Homo sapiens: one gene and its partners. The protein of the gene in region 4 purifies or fractionates together with the protein of the main gene of each other region. This does not show direct contact. Each region holds a gene or a part of one and is shown on either strand. Other genes may lie near its edges.

Evidence for each region. The genes of interacting proteins can lie anywhere in the genome.
Region 1: the proteins of HNRNPUL2 (region 4) and HCN1 purify together in Homo sapiens (co-immunoprecipitation; one large-scale study listed by IntAct). This does not show direct contact.
Region 2: the proteins of HNRNPUL2 (region 4) and AQR purify together in Homo sapiens (affinity purification with mass spectrometry; one large-scale study listed by BioGRID and IntAct). This does not show direct contact.
Region 3: the proteins of HNRNPUL2 (region 4) and HTR7 purify together in Homo sapiens (tandem affinity purification; one large-scale study listed by IntAct). This does not show direct contact.

Annotation. Positions count from the first base shown.
Region 1 is NC_000005.10:45,262,881-45,266,380, forward strand, and holds part of HCN1 (potassium/sodium hyperpolarization-activated cyclic nucleotide-gated channel 1), read right to left. Parts: intron 1-3,500. UniProt on the Homo sapiens protein: Hyperpolarization-activated ion channel that are permeable to sodium and potassium ions. Displays lower selectivity for K(+) over Na(+) ions.
Region 2 is NC_000015.10:34,903,743-34,907,242, forward strand, and holds part of AQR (RNA helicase aquarius), read right to left. Parts: intron 2,971-3,500; coding exon 2,803-2,970; intron 764-2,802; coding exon 594-763; intron 1-593.
Region 3 is NC_000010.11:90,855,240-90,859,520, forward strand, and holds the start of HTR7 (5-hydroxytryptamine receptor 7), read right to left. Parts: upstream 2,801-4,281; 5' UTR 2,433-2,800; coding exon 1,894-2,432; intron 1-1,893. UniProt on the Homo sapiens protein: G-protein coupled receptor for 5-hydroxytryptamine (serotonin), a biogenic hormone that functions as a neurotransmitter, a hormone and a mitogen.
Region 4 is NC_000011.10:62,720,958-62,724,457, forward strand, and holds part of HNRNPUL2 (heterogeneous nuclear ribonucleoprotein U-like protein 2), read right to left. Parts: intron 3,470-3,500; coding exon 3,334-3,469; intron 3,034-3,333; coding exon 2,957-3,033; intron 2,770-2,956; coding exon 2,630-2,769; intron 1,947-2,629; coding exon 1,856-1,946; intron 1,757-1,855; coding exon 1,644-1,756; intron 1,424-1,643; coding exon 1,160-1,423; intron 986-1,159; coding exon 863-985; intron 467-862; coding exon 338-466; intron 1-337.

The sequences.
Region 1 (3,500 bases), on a different chromosome or scaffold from region 4:
CTCCTGCAAACAGAAGTATAGCTGTGCTTCACAGGAGAGGCTTAAAAAGCCAGTCACTCACCTTTACACACCAAATACCAATGTGGCTCCTACCTTTCACACTTCCTGTATTTCTCTGGGAACTCTTACCTTCTACTCAAGTTGAACGGCCTGTAATATGGCAAAGAGCCACTTTACAGAAGAAATGGAGATATTTAACATGAGGGCCACCTTGAAGAATGGGGGAAGAAAGGGCTTTTGGAATAGGATGGGCTTGGAATCAACATTTGATTTTAAAGTTACTTTTTCAAGAAAGGACCATGGAGACATAAGCGAGAACATTTGAACACGTACTATGTGATAAGCACTCTACAAAAGACCTTAGGTAGATGATTTTATGTAACCCGCGACCCTGTCAGATAGGTGTGTTCATAATCTCATTTTACCTGAAAGGAGATCAGGACATGAGAAGACTAAGAACAGTGCCCAGGAAAACAAAAAAAAAACATGGTTGGCAGGTAACAGGGCTGAGAAAGACCATATACACAAAAAAGTGATTGCACATCCTTGCTATGGAAAATGAACCAACTGCCCCTGTCTCATCTGTGTGCTTGCTAGAAACTCAGCCTCCTGGGCCTGACCCCACTTGCTGAATCAGATGTTGCATTTTACTAAGATCCCCAGGTGATTCCCAAATGCAAATCTGAGGAGGACTGTATCAGGTTTTGCTTTTGACCCAGTGTCTTACACCAGTCATTCTCAGTCCTAGTTGGATATTTTTCTTATCTCTGGAGCTTTAAAAAATACTAACATCCACTTGTTCCCTACCAATTAAATCTAAATAATCATACATGGGCTCTGAATTTCAGTAGTTTAAAAGCAAATTTCCCCAGGAAATTCTTTTTTTAAAATTTATTATTTATTTATTTTATTTTATTTATTTATTTTTTTGAGACGGAGTCTCGCTCTGATGCCCAGGCTGGAGTTGCAGTGGCACCATCCCAGCTCACTGCAAGCTCTGCCTCCCGGGTTCATGCCATTCTCCTGCCTTAGCCTCCTGAGTAGCTGGGACTACAGGTGCCCGCCACCGTGCCCGGTTAATTTTTTGTATTTTTAGTAGAGATGGGGTTTCACCATGTTAGCCAGGATGGTCTCCATCTCATGACCTTGTGATCCACCCGCCTCGGCCTCCCAAAGTGCTGGGATTACAGGCGTGAGCCACCACGCCCAGCTTCCCCAGGGAATTCTTAAATGCAGCCAAGACTGAGACTGACTTTATGATCTTTCCTCTTCTGAATGGTTGTTGTGAGGACCAAGGGCATAGTGCATTGCAGGCTCTCAGCTCCCTCTAAGACCTCAATAAATTTTACCTTTTCCTGCCATCATCTTCTGAGTGGTTTGCAATACAGCTTTTCCTGCCATCATCTTCTGAGTGGTTTGCAATACTAGACAGTCTCTGGCATAATAATTATTAGAATGAATAGTGGATTGGTGAAAGAAGGGGAAAGTAGTGACTTTTCTATGGCATCATTGATACACTAATCTCCAAGTGAATATGGTAACTGAAAAGTGAATCAATTTGCGATATTGCTAAATAAACTAACACATTAAAGGTAACAAAATATATTTTTGAAGATAAATATGTATTGTAATTTCATTGACTGCTAGGAATGCAATCATTTTAAATGACTGCCAAAATAGTTACCTCTCCCTACTTACAGACTGTCCTAATTTCCCAAAGAACAAAAACTCCTACATTAGTAATAAATATAAATGCTTATTTAGCATATTTGCTTAACTAACTGCAGCATACATCTATATGCAATGGCCACAAAACCGAGAAGCATAATGTTTCTTTCTGATTATGTGAACAGTCAAAATATCTTAATCTAAGTATCTTTAACCTTGGGAAAAATAATGTAACTTTTAATACACTCTTACTATGTTATAAAGATCAAAAATTCAATTGCTTAGTGCCTATTAGAAATTGCATTGCCTGTATTGATTACGAACCATTTCATGTAAATATTGTTATAAAAATTAACTGCAGGCTGGGCGCGGTGGCTCATGCCTGTAATTCCAGCACTGTGGGAGGCTGAGATGGGTGGATCATGAGGTTAGGAGGTCAAGACCGTCCTGGCCAACATGGTGAAACCCCGTCTCTACTAAAAATACAAAATATTAGCAGGGCGTGGCAGTGCACACCTGCAGTCCCAGCTACTCAGGAGGCTGAGGCAGGAGAATTGCTTGAACCTGGGAGGCGGAGGCTGCAGTGAGCCGAGATCACACCACTGCACTCCAGCCTGGGCAACAGAGCAAGATTCTGTCTTAAAAAAAAAAAAAAATTAACTGCAATAAGTTAGATGAAAGTGAAGCTGTATCAGATTAACAGAAATTATCTAGTGAAATATCCTGATTTTAATGTTTTCTCTAAGGATGTCTAGCTGGTTTAGGAAGAAACTCATTGCTTAGAAATTAGTCTCTGTCTCTAACATAAACACTCACACACTACAAAGAGGGAAGTTATTTTCCAATTAAGTAAGGATGCCTTCAGGAGTGCCTACTTCTTTTGTGGGTATTGTCTCCCTGAATGAGTAGGTCTTGTTAAATCTCTAAGATTTCAATATGAATTTCTAATACGTTTGTTATATCTAATGATGATGTCCAAATACTGCCTTTACTTCTAATCTATTTTCAGATCTCTATGCAGTCTGCTGTCCTACTAATATAGAGAGAAAGGAAGATGTGAATGTGAAGTGCAGAAAAAAAGCCAACATAACAATTTATCAATCTGAAGTCCTTACCTTTAATAAGAATGAAGCAGTTGAGGTACCTCCTTGTTTATCACAAGTGATCCCAGCCCCATCTTTTTTGAGTTCATTTATTCCTTCCTCCCTTCCTACCTCTCTTCAACAAATATTCATTGTATACTAGGTACTGTGAATGTAATGGTGAATTAAACATGAGCTCTACATTGACAAATTTAGCATCTCTAGAGCCAGTAATAAAAGCAGTGCTGTGATGGGGGAGCTTCAGAGGCTATAGGAGAATGCATCCAAGGAACTGGGCTTAGTAGGGAGTGGGAGGTCAGAGAAGGTTTCTAGAGGGAGGTGATATCTAAACAGAGAGAGGAAGGTTGAGCAGAGTCGAGCTGACCAAAAAAAAGTAGAGAAGGGGAGGGTGGCAAAGAGGGTTTAGGTGTGGAAAATGAATGCATACTACCTTACAACATAATGTTCCAGGATATCTAGGAATGTTAACAGCAAGCCAATCCAAGCTAACTTTACTATGGCAATTATGCAAATCTTCAAACTAGCATAACTAATAAGGCCTAATGGTTGTATATATATATTTTTTTATTTGGTAGCAGAAAAGACTTTAAAATATGTTGATGTTTGCGAGGTAAAGCATCTATGTAGGGCATTACTATCAAGGCTTTTTTTTTCTGCTTGAGTCTATATTACAAACATTTTATTATGTCTCTGCTGAGATTAATTTAAATGTGCAAATTTTCAATTCCT
Region 2 (3,500 bases), on a different chromosome or scaffold from region 4:
AACTGTTCAATGTTTAAGTTTTATAATATAGTTTCAAATAATGGTTTTTAAAACTATCCTTTACTAAAACTCTTCTCCCCACAAAGTTATTCTAAAAGTAGAACTTTGAGCCACCAAACCTCCCTTTCCTACTAATGAGTAAAAATATATTATAACGTATAGTAATTCAGAGCCTTGAGATTCCATATCTGTATTCTTAAAGTGACCTGGAAGTATACCTACTTTTGATTCAAAAAAGAAGCCCCAGTAAACAAGTAAGCAAGTTTTCTTCACTTCATAATAGGGCATTAACTGAATACCTAATATACAAAAAGCAAAAAAGGAGGTGGACCTTTAGAATAACACTTGGATTCATCTATATTTTAAGTTTTTAAACTCCTCAAAAGACAAAATAGATTTAAGAAATCAATTTCTTTAAATTTTTATATTTCATCATTTTGTTAAAAGTTTAAGAGGATTGCTTATAGTAAAAATAAAAGCAGTCATTATTTTTTTCTTAACAAATCTTCCTCTAACCAAATATCTCTGTATTTATGTCATAAAAGTTACTTAAATTATGACATAGTACTTTTAGTTACATACCCCCAAATTACCTTAAAGTTATTTTCCTTTGGTTTTCTCCTCATTATTATATTAAAAGTTTCATACACATCCTCTGCTCCATTTTGTATAGTATTGGTCATATCTTGTTGATACTGGTTTGGATCCAAAAACACTCTAAATGTCCTTGATTCTCCTCTAAGATTGGGTCTGGGTTCAGGTCCTGGACAATTTGAAAAAGTTTGTTAAATAAAATATGTATTTTTCAAATATCAAAATAAGTTAACAGTATTTCTTTTCTAGAAATGGTGAGTAAATGGTTCAGGCTTAACTCCAACCATTCTTCCCAAAGTAGAATGCCCTCCACTCACCCACTTCAAATTCTAAGATGCTGAAAGTATTTTCTTCTTTCTCTAAATTCTTACTATTTCCTTCCATAGCAGTCATGTAATGTTTACGATGCAACACCATGACTTGCAATAATTTGTACACACACTCAACTAAAATAGGAGTACTTAGAAGTCAAAGAACTTATCTTTACTTTTGTCACTCATAGCTCCCACTACTGCCTTACATATAGTAAGTATTCAATAAATATTTTCTAATTAAATATATGTATTTTAGAATTTAAGGCATAGTTTTCTATTCATTAATTCCTTAATTTGACAGAGGTTCATCACTTTTCTCATCCTTCCACATTCCATACCTAGTATAACCAGCATGAAAAGAAATTTCACATACACAGAAATGTAGGATACTAATGGTTGAAAGCCCAGAGCCTTTTCTTTCCTCTCTGACATATCTCCTCTTTTTTGGGGGGGGTGGGGGGAAGGGGGGGTCTTAGACCTCGAACTTTGGTTCCATTATGTGGCCTTATGCTTATTCCATCCATTTTCCATTCCCTTCTCCTATTTCCTCTCATTCTAGAGATAAATAACTTAATCATCAGCAGTTTAGCAATGATATAATCTCTAAACCACAGATAGCATAAACTGACTAAAGTTTCAAAAGAAGTACAACAACCAAATTGTAAAATAAGCACTAGACATGTATGCAGTTGTAATTTAATAATAAGTATTATAAAGGAAGTCAGGACAACAGAAGAAAGAATTTCAAAGGGATAATAAGTGATACACATAAGAAATCAAATAACTGACTAATTTTGTAAAGCAGTGTTTTTAAATGCGGTAAAGTTGGCATCTTATGCAGGATAATTCCTTCTTTTATTTCTGTTCAGATGTTTAGCATCCTTGGCTCACAGTTACCTAATGCCAAGAGCCTGCCATTCCTCACCTCTATCCCGGTCATTTGAAAACCTAAATATCACTATGCATTTTCAAACGCAGGACAGTATTGTTCCCAATTAAGAACCACCACTACAATGAATTAAAATAGTCAAATTTAAGAAGAAAAAATATATCATTGAACACAAAAAAGCTTGGACAACTGTAAGAGATATTTAGAGTGTTTCTTAAAAAAAATATGGTAAAGTATTACATATTTTAAAAAGCTTTGAATAAAGATGATTTCAAAAGATCCTGTCCCAGAGTTCGAGACCAGCCTGGCCAACATGGTGAAACTCTGTCTCTACTAAAAATACAAAAATTAGCCAGGCGCGGTGGCAGGCACCTGTAATCCCAGCTACTGGGGTGGCTGAGGCAGAATTGCTTGAACTTGGGAGGCAGAGGTTGCAGTGGGCCAAGATCGCGCCACTGCACTCCAGCCTGGTTGACAGAGCAAAACTCCGTCTTGGGGGGAAAAAAAGAAAAAGATCCTGTCCTTTCCAATATCTAACATAGAAGTTCTGAAACTGTCTGGGTGTGGTGGCGGCTCATGTCTGTAATCCCAGCACTTTGGGAGGCCGAGGCAAGTGGAGTGCTTGATCTCAGGAGTTTGAGACCAGCCTGGGCAACATGGGGAAACCCCATCTCTACAAAAATTAACCGGGCATGGTCGCACGTGCCTATGGTCCCAGCTACTAGCAGGGCTGAGGCTGGAGAATCGCATGAACCCAGGAGGCAGAGGTTGCAGTGAGCCGAGATTGTGCCACTGAACTCCAGCCTGTGTGACACAGTGAGAAACCATGTTACCTATATCTAAAACTGCACGGTAGGTACCCTACACATATTTGATACAAAATCCTTTGTGTCAATTTAGTAGGTAAAAGAACTAAAAAATATTACCTAAGAAGCAAAAAGGGAAAAAGGCAAAGAAATTTATCATTCTATACACATACTCTTTCAAAAATATAGGTCACCATACCATCTTCAATGACACGTCCTTTATCATCCAGCATGCCCTGAATTTCACAGCCTCTGACATAAACCAGGCCAACCTGCTCAATAAAAGGTCTCCTCCGGTCAAACTTAGTGCCATAAGGTTTTGTGGGACGTACGGTAATTAAAAAGCATACATCATGCTTACGAAGACCTGGTAAGATATAAAGACATTTTCATTTATTAGAATTTCATTGTTTTCAGTCTTTTGTAGGCAAATTCTTATTTGCCTCTCTACCTCTTATCTTTGGTAGAGAGATACCGTTGAGTGACCAATGATTATTATCGCATTGTAACACAATTATGGGCTTTTCTATAATCTTTAATACTCAATATTTCATAGCATTAATTGAAATGAAAACTTCTTTATATTAAAATTAGAAACATTCATGCCATGAATATATTACTGAATAAGCCCTCCAAGTCATGCTACAGCTCCAAAATTGGATGTTCGTCATCATTCTTATTTTTAACAATCTTAATAAGTAACCAAAAATATGGCTGGCATATAATCCATCTATAGCATATTTAGCAGGTTTTTAATATCAGTTTAAACTATCTATCAGTGTCATTCCAAAGACAGCCTAATTGTATTTCACTAAAACAGGTCAACTCAAGAATAATTAATCAAGGCAAAAAAGTATTGTTTACAGGTATGATCTTGAGAAAGATGGCTGAATATAT
Region 3 (4,281 bases), on a different chromosome or scaffold from region 4:
TGCCAAGAAGGATTAATGTCTTCTCAGTATTCAGGACATGCCTGCCGATGCTAAGTCACACATGCACGCTGAGTGGAGAATGCCTTTAGCTCATGTATAGGAATCACAAGGTGATCTCAGCCAAACCTCAATGTAGCCCAGAAGAGGAGAAACACTGGCTGTCTTAGGAGACAAATTAGCACAAGGTATTATTTATGTATCATTTATCAACTGTGAAATTTTAAAAAATGGTTATAAATACAGTACTTGCAGCATAAACCGTTATTTGTTTTATTACACTAAGTTCCATTTAAAAGGACTCCATTCATGCAGGATGCTCTGTTTTGGTTGGCTGAGCAGTCAGATTTCTGTGCTTATAATTCATGTATACACTTACTATGTGTATTGAGTGCACTCTCCTAATTCCAGTTGCCACAGTCAGACTGTAAATACATATGTTTTGTCATTCTTAACTACTGTAATTCAGAACTTCAGCTGCCAAATTTGGTGCTAATATTCTCACATATGCAGTTCATGCTCTGCTCTTAAGTAATTCCTTGTTTGCTGTCAGCAGCTTCTACCATGATATATAAAATGGTAGAATCAATTTAAAGAAAAATAACCTAAATTGTTAGCTAAATGGAGCTACAATGTGTTTTTCTTCTTGAAAATATTCCCTTTTCTATTATTTCCTTTATTTAGTAATTATAAACCCTGGTCAAGCAAAAAATACATACAGCAGAACATTTTAAGTACCAGCAAACCACAAACAGCAGTGTTTTCAAGAAGAAAAAAAGGAAAATCTCAGTTTCATGCTAGACCATCCTTTGAGGCACTGTCATTTTAAGTGTGGAGGCATCAATTATTTCCCCTAGGCTGAAAGATCTACACATATAAAGGTTCTATAGATCCACTAAGAAAATAAGCAACCATTTCTCTGTATCATTAAACACAACAGGATACTAGTCTTGAAACACCGGCAAAATTCTGAGTGTGAATATTAAGGTCTCATATTTCAGTTTCAAGTGAAATAGAGTTGTTTTAGGCCAAAGAGGATTGAGACCATACTTCAAGTTGTCAACTGCATAATATTTCAAGGGTCAAAGACTAGCTCCATTTCAAAAGCCTGTAACCTTACAGCCTGAAGAAACCCTGTGGGTCTCCTAGTTCAATATGACACCCAAGGCAGGAATTTTTCCCCTAGCATCCCTGACAGATGGTCAGCCTCTGTTTCAATTACTCCAGTGGGGGAGTTCTCAAGAGAAGGTTCCCAAGGGCTATGATGAAAGGCTAGAACCAGCCATTCAGACCTGGAGGAAGGCTCCAGTCAGCAAGCTCGCAAGATACAGACAGCATTACCAAACATTGAAACCAGACTTCCACAAGCAAGAATGCGATTCCGAACTGACCATCATAAAGATGCAATGTGTAAGACATACAAACCCCAATTCTAGAACCATCCAAGGTCCTTTTACTGGCCTAGGGAGTAGCTCCCACAATGGGGTAAGCAAGGTGGCTTTTCTCCGACTTATTATTATTATTTTTTAATGACTCTTTAAGGCTCACAGCAAGGCTTGATCAAGTCAGGGAGCACCAAATCCCTTCCTTCCAAAAACCAAGGCAAGGGACCCGCTGGTGGAAATGCTAAGGCTTAAAATACTCTTAACTTTGGTCTTAAATTCGTCACTACAGTAAACCAGAACATTTCCGGTTTTTCTTTTAAAGATGTACATAGGCTATGCCGTAACCGAAGTTTGGTTGGTGTAGGGTGGATTGGGGGGAGCGGTGTTTTAAGCGCAGCCCTTCATCCCGCCTTGAAGTCTAGCTTGATCCTCCCAGGAAAGGCGAGCGCGCGGGGCTGAGCTGCCAGCCGGTCCCCAGCCGGAGCCTGGGACGGGGCGGTCCGGCCCTTACCTGTCAATGCTGATCACGCACAGGGTCATGATCGAGGCCGTGCAGCACATGACGTCCATGGCGATGAAGACATTACAGAAAAAGTGTCCAAAGATCCACTTGCCCCCGATGAGGTCGGTGACGCTGACGAAGGGCATGACCGCCACAGCCACCGAGAGGTCGGCCAGCGCCAGGGACACGATCAGGTAGTTGGAGGGCTGGCGGAGCTTCTTGACGAAGCACACGGAGATCACCACCAGGCAGTTGCCCGCGATCGTCAGCAGCGTGATGAGCGTCAGGATGGAGCCGATCACAACTTTCTCGACTCTGCCGTAGTTGATCTGTTCCCCACAGCCGGAGGCATTGTCCGGGGGCGCGTCCCAGGTGGGCGCCGGGCTGGCTGTCACCTCGCTCAGCAGGTGCGGCGCCCAGGAGCCCGCGACCGGGTCGGCGCCACCGTCGGGGCTCAAGTCGGGCAGCCCGCGCCCCACTTCTGGCAGAAGGAAAGAGCGGAGGTGCCCGTAGAGGTCCGGGCGGCCGCTGCTGTTAACGTCCATCATCGCGCCGCCGTGTGCCGCTGCCCATGGAGCCGGCGCCCCGGCCACGCGCCTCCGGCTGCCGGCCCCGGGGCTTCACCTCACCGGTTCCGCTCCGCCCGGCCCAGCCATGGGGCCCGCGCCGACCGCTGGGGGGCGCCTGGCTCTGTCTCGGAGCCCCGCACTCCCCGGACCCCCGGCCGCTGCGGGTAACGCGGCAGCGCGGCCTCACGGGGACTCCCTGCGGGAGGCGCTTCGGCCCCCGACGGACGCCTGGGACGCGCGGAGTCGAGGGAGCTCGGGCTGGGCTCCGCTGGCAGCTCCACAGTTCGCAGCAGCAGCTCGGCTGCGCCGAGAGCGCCCGGGCGGCAGCGGCAGAAGTTGCGGAGTGCGCCCCGCCCCTCGCGCCCGCCGCCGCCGCCGCCGCCGCCGCCGCTCCCCTGCGGCAGCCGCGCCGCGTCCCCGCCGCCGCCGCCTCCGGCCGCTGCCCGCTCCCTCGCGCTCCTGGGACGGGATACCCGGGCTGGGCAGGCACCGCCGCCTCTCCCGCGCCTCCCTACTGTGAGGGGGCGGCGCTGCACGCGCCTCCCGGGATCCCGGGTCCCCTCGCCCGGGAAGCTGTCCTTGCCGCATGATAGATACTTAGAACCCCTCCAGCCGACCCCAGCCTCCGCACACTAGTCAGCCACAGTTCAGTGGGGGCATTTTTCTTTTGTTAAGAGGCCTAATGAGCCAGCGGATGTTTGGGCTCATTGCGAAATGAAGAACCTAGAGGGGGATTTTATTTTTCTTAATTAAACAACAACCAAAAAAACGTCTCTGAGCACTACACTAAGCAACAAATAGGTACTTCCGTTTTCTATTTTGACCGCTTATGGGAAGAAGCGAAGATGGAAAAGAAGCAGCCGAATGGGGTGAGGGTGGGAGCTCCGAGAAGAGGAAGAAAGAAAAAAAGGAGGGAGGGGGATTCCTTAAGCCCCTGGCACCCAGGAGATGAGGATGCTCTGGGGACAAGGCCTCCAAGGGGGTTACACCCATTTGGACTAATCCTTCCTGGATGTCTAGAAACAGTCCTCTCCGCTCTGAAAATAGACCCTGATTGCCTTTATATTTAGACTTCAAAGCCTAATATATTGAAAAGAGAGTTAATTTTCCCGTAGCATTCTGGAAGTCTTACACATAAGCAAAGAAATGACCGGTTATACTCTTCTATAAAGGAATCCTGGAGGTGTATGTTGATTTAATACCTATTGGCTAAAATTCCCCTTGGTATCCAAACCCTGTCAGAGCGGCTGATTTTTATTATTTGTGAGACTTGCTTCATTCCATTTTGTTTGAAGGTTTCATTGGAAGCCAGCAGTGATTTCTGTAGTTTAAGACTCTAAAAATAATCAAATCTGTTTTTTCTTGTTAGGCCCTAGCGGATTATAAATAAGAAGAAAAGGAATAAAAACCTCAAAGTATATTGATCAGAGTGCTGAATAGTACTTTCATTCTTCAAGGTGGGTATTAGCTCTGTTTTTCCAGATAGGGAAGGTTGTTAGCTCTTGCAATCAGCTGGTAAGGAATAGTTATGTTTCAAACCCAAGTTTATCTGATTACTATGCCCATATTCTTCCCTGTACACATTCAGAAAAAGTTTTAATGGAAAAAAAAAAAAGCCCTAATGTTCACAGCTCTTTTGCTGTGATCAACATTTCAGAGGCTCCTCTCTGCCTAGGATAAGCAAACCAATCCATTGAGTCAGAGGAAGAGTTGAATATAATACCTAGGCCACAAAGCAATATTATCTAACAGTTAAGATGGATGAGGAAATTTCTTCAACCTTACTTATGTTAGTTATTCTCTGTTTCGCTTTTCTTGGTTTGTTATC
Region 4 (3,500 bases):
ACTACATGACAGGTATTATCCTGTTTTGCTCATCAGGGAAACTGAGGTTCAGAAAGGATAAGGGACTTATCCAAGATCACAAACCAGAATGTGGTGGAGCCAGGAATTCAAATGAGTTCCAACTCTTTCCATTGTCTTTATTACATGTTTTATAGCCTGGGTCCATATATTTTCAAGTAAAAACACTAATTAGGGGTACCTCTGAGTTCAAAAAACATTGCAACCATAACACACAACCAGATGGTCATAATTAGGTAAGCTGACTCTGCTCCTTAATTCAGTCTCTCTTTATATACACATCCCACCTTGACTCTAGGCAATTTTATCAGATTAATACCTGATCAAGAATAAAGTTCCTCTTTGTCCGGGAAGCAATCTGGACCAGCTTACTAAGGCACTGGGAGGCTTGCTGAACTAAAAGGTCTCGGCTTTTGGGGTCCATCTCTGGCTCCTCGAGACCCTTCATCTGATTAGTTTGAGAGGAAGTGAAAAAAAAAAACAAAACACAAGTTATATTGCAAGTTAAAGCCCAAGAGTTATTGGTAAATGTCACCTCTTCAAATACTGAATCTATGATATCACTCTATTCCCATTCTTCAGTGCTGTGAATGTTGTCCATTTCCTGCAGTAGTCATTTCTATCTAGTCTTAACCTGGATGTATTTCAGATCTCATCTGCTTTCAGAAATTTGACAACACAGCAAAGAAAAAAAAAATCAATCCACCTAAAACGCATAGAGAAAAATCTCATTTCTCTATTTCTGGGACCCTTGTTCTCAGACACTTGAGACTAATTCTCCATTAAAGATAGGTTATAAGAGTCTCCAAATACTGTATCCGACAAATCCCCAACAGCAACTTACCCTCATTTGATTGAGCACAGTCTCAGCTCCCAGGACATTGTATCTTTTCTCAGGGTTTTCTTTTGCATATTTCAGTGCCCACTGGGTCTTTCCAGATCCGGGTAGTCCCACCATCAGAATCACCTGCAAAAAACAGAACCAGAAATATAATGAAAAATAAATGAGGGTCATGTTTATCAAAACCAATTTAAGAACATCCTCCCATTCCTGTTTGGTAACGCTCTGAGACCCTGGAGAGCATACGCACCCACCTCTGCAAAGCATACAACCTCAGTGTTCGTATACTGTTTGGCATACCTCACATTCCTCTATGGTCTTGGGAGGGACTGCAGTGCGTACACGCTCCTCAACAGGCACAGCATGAATGAACACAAACTCTTCTGGTGGTGGGAAGAAGGGCTCCTCCTTCTGACCGAAGTTTAATTCTACAACACAATTTTTGCAGAGGACATGGGGTAGAAGGGCCCGGTCTGCCAGGGAATCCTTGCTGATCCAGAATGCCACACCTAGGTCTTCTCCATTCTTGGAGAAGGAAAGTTCTACTTCTTCAGTCTCAAAATTCTACAATGACAAGGGACAAGAGCACTTATTGGCTGACGAGGCTTTGGGTTGATTAAACTTTACAATTTATTCTTTTTTCACACAGACTGCTGCACAAAGTAACTAAGCGAGCCACACACATCACATGCATAAAAGCCAGCAGTTGATGGGAAGCACAAGTGAATTCCCAGTGCCCTCTATCCGCTCCTTGTTATAACCCACAACTTTCAGGAGCACTTACAGCAAAGCAGCCAATAACATCATTCTCCCCAAAAGTCTGGCCAAATTCCTCAAATTGTCCATTTTCTGCCTTGAGTCCTCGTCCATCGAAACCGTAAGAGAATTCATCTTCACCTAGAACAGTCAACAAATTAGTTACCTACAACCGGACTTCCCATAGAGTAAGCAATATGGTAGTAAACACTAATGAGGAACTTAAAGAAATAACTTTACCAAGCTGTGGACGGGAAAAATCAACAGACCACCCAACTCGAAGGAGAGAGACCTCTGTGCAGCCTTCTTTCATTGGGAGATTCTGGGTTACCTGGCCAAGTCAGAAAGGGAACTATTAGATATTGTGACCAACTGAGTAGCAAACTCTGAGTTCGAAGGACAAGATTTTTATACAAACTGAAAACGACATTTACCTCAACTCAACATCAGAATAACAATCACTGAACTTAAAGCCACAGGGATCAATTTCTTGGTTACTGAAACTAAGGTTCTTGTTAAAGCACAGTGCTTTTACCTACCTGCACTAATAAAAGCCTGATTGGACAGAAGTCCAGTATACATAGGTAGTAGCTTAATGAATAAATGAACGGTCTTTTTAAAAAAATATTTCTTCCCCAGCCAGGTGCGGTAGCTCATGCCTGTAATCCCAGCACTTTGGGAGGCCAAGACGGGCGGATCACCTGAGGTCGGGAGTTCAAGACCAGCCCGACCAACATGGAGAAACCCCATCTCTACTAAGAATACAAAATTAGCCAGGTGTGGTGGCGCATGCCTGTAATCCCAGCTCCTCGGGAGGCTGAGGCAGGAGAATCGCTTCAACCCAGGAGGCAGAGGCTGTGGTGAGCCGAGATGGTGCCACTGGACTCCAGCCTGGGTAACAAGAGCGAAACTCCATCTCAAAAAAAAAGAGATAATAATCTTCTTTTCCCCCTCTAAGAACCGTAAGCATCCAGTAATAAATGAATGAATGAATGAATGGTCTTAATGAGCTACCTTTGCCTCAAAGCAGACTTTTCCCTTTGTCACTCCGTAAGTACTCCTTGCCCCAGACCAAAGGGTGGGGAACTTCTCTGAGAAAAGTGGCTGCCCTCCATAGCGGTCTTTGCTCACTTGAAAATGCAGATCCGAGGTATCTGTAAAGAAAGAAGCAATCAGTTTACTCCAATGTCCAATACTTGTAAGCCGCCAACAGAGCATAAGTATACCAGTTGTTGTAGTGGATACAAAGTCTCATAGAATTTATAGGCTATGAAGTTTTAATCTCCAAAATCACTTTTAGGAGATTAGTTAAAAACCACAGTCTGTCTGCCTTATACATACACGTGTCCAGGTTCACAAGAGTTTGATCCTCCTCCTCATCTTTTGCCTCTTCTTCAGGAGGCAGTGGAGACTTTGAGCTATATATGTAAGATAGAAAAGAAACACAATGTAAACAAAGCCCTCTTCTTTGAGGGGTGTGTGTGTATGACATTATGTCCATTTTAAACTGTCAGTGAATATCAAATCCCAGCAGACAGCTTTTTCCAATAAATGAGAAAGGGCAATAGGAGTTTCCATGGTAGATGCAATCTAAAACTCATGCCTATAAAAACCTATTCCATTTTGAATCCACCCTCCTTCCAGTCTCTCCAGTCAATACCAGGTATACCAAAATCAGAGCAGACACTCCCTTCAACGAAAGGGACTGTTTCCCTCACCGGCTGTGGTAAGCCTCCTCTCGGAATTCATAGTAAGCTCGGCCATGTTCATCCTTCTCATCCCGCTGTCTCTTTACCCCCCGCCGCTCACCATCTGAGCCTGCTGGTTTTGACTTTTCACTATCCTGGTCATCTCCTACAAAAACGAGGGAAAGAAAATCAGCAGT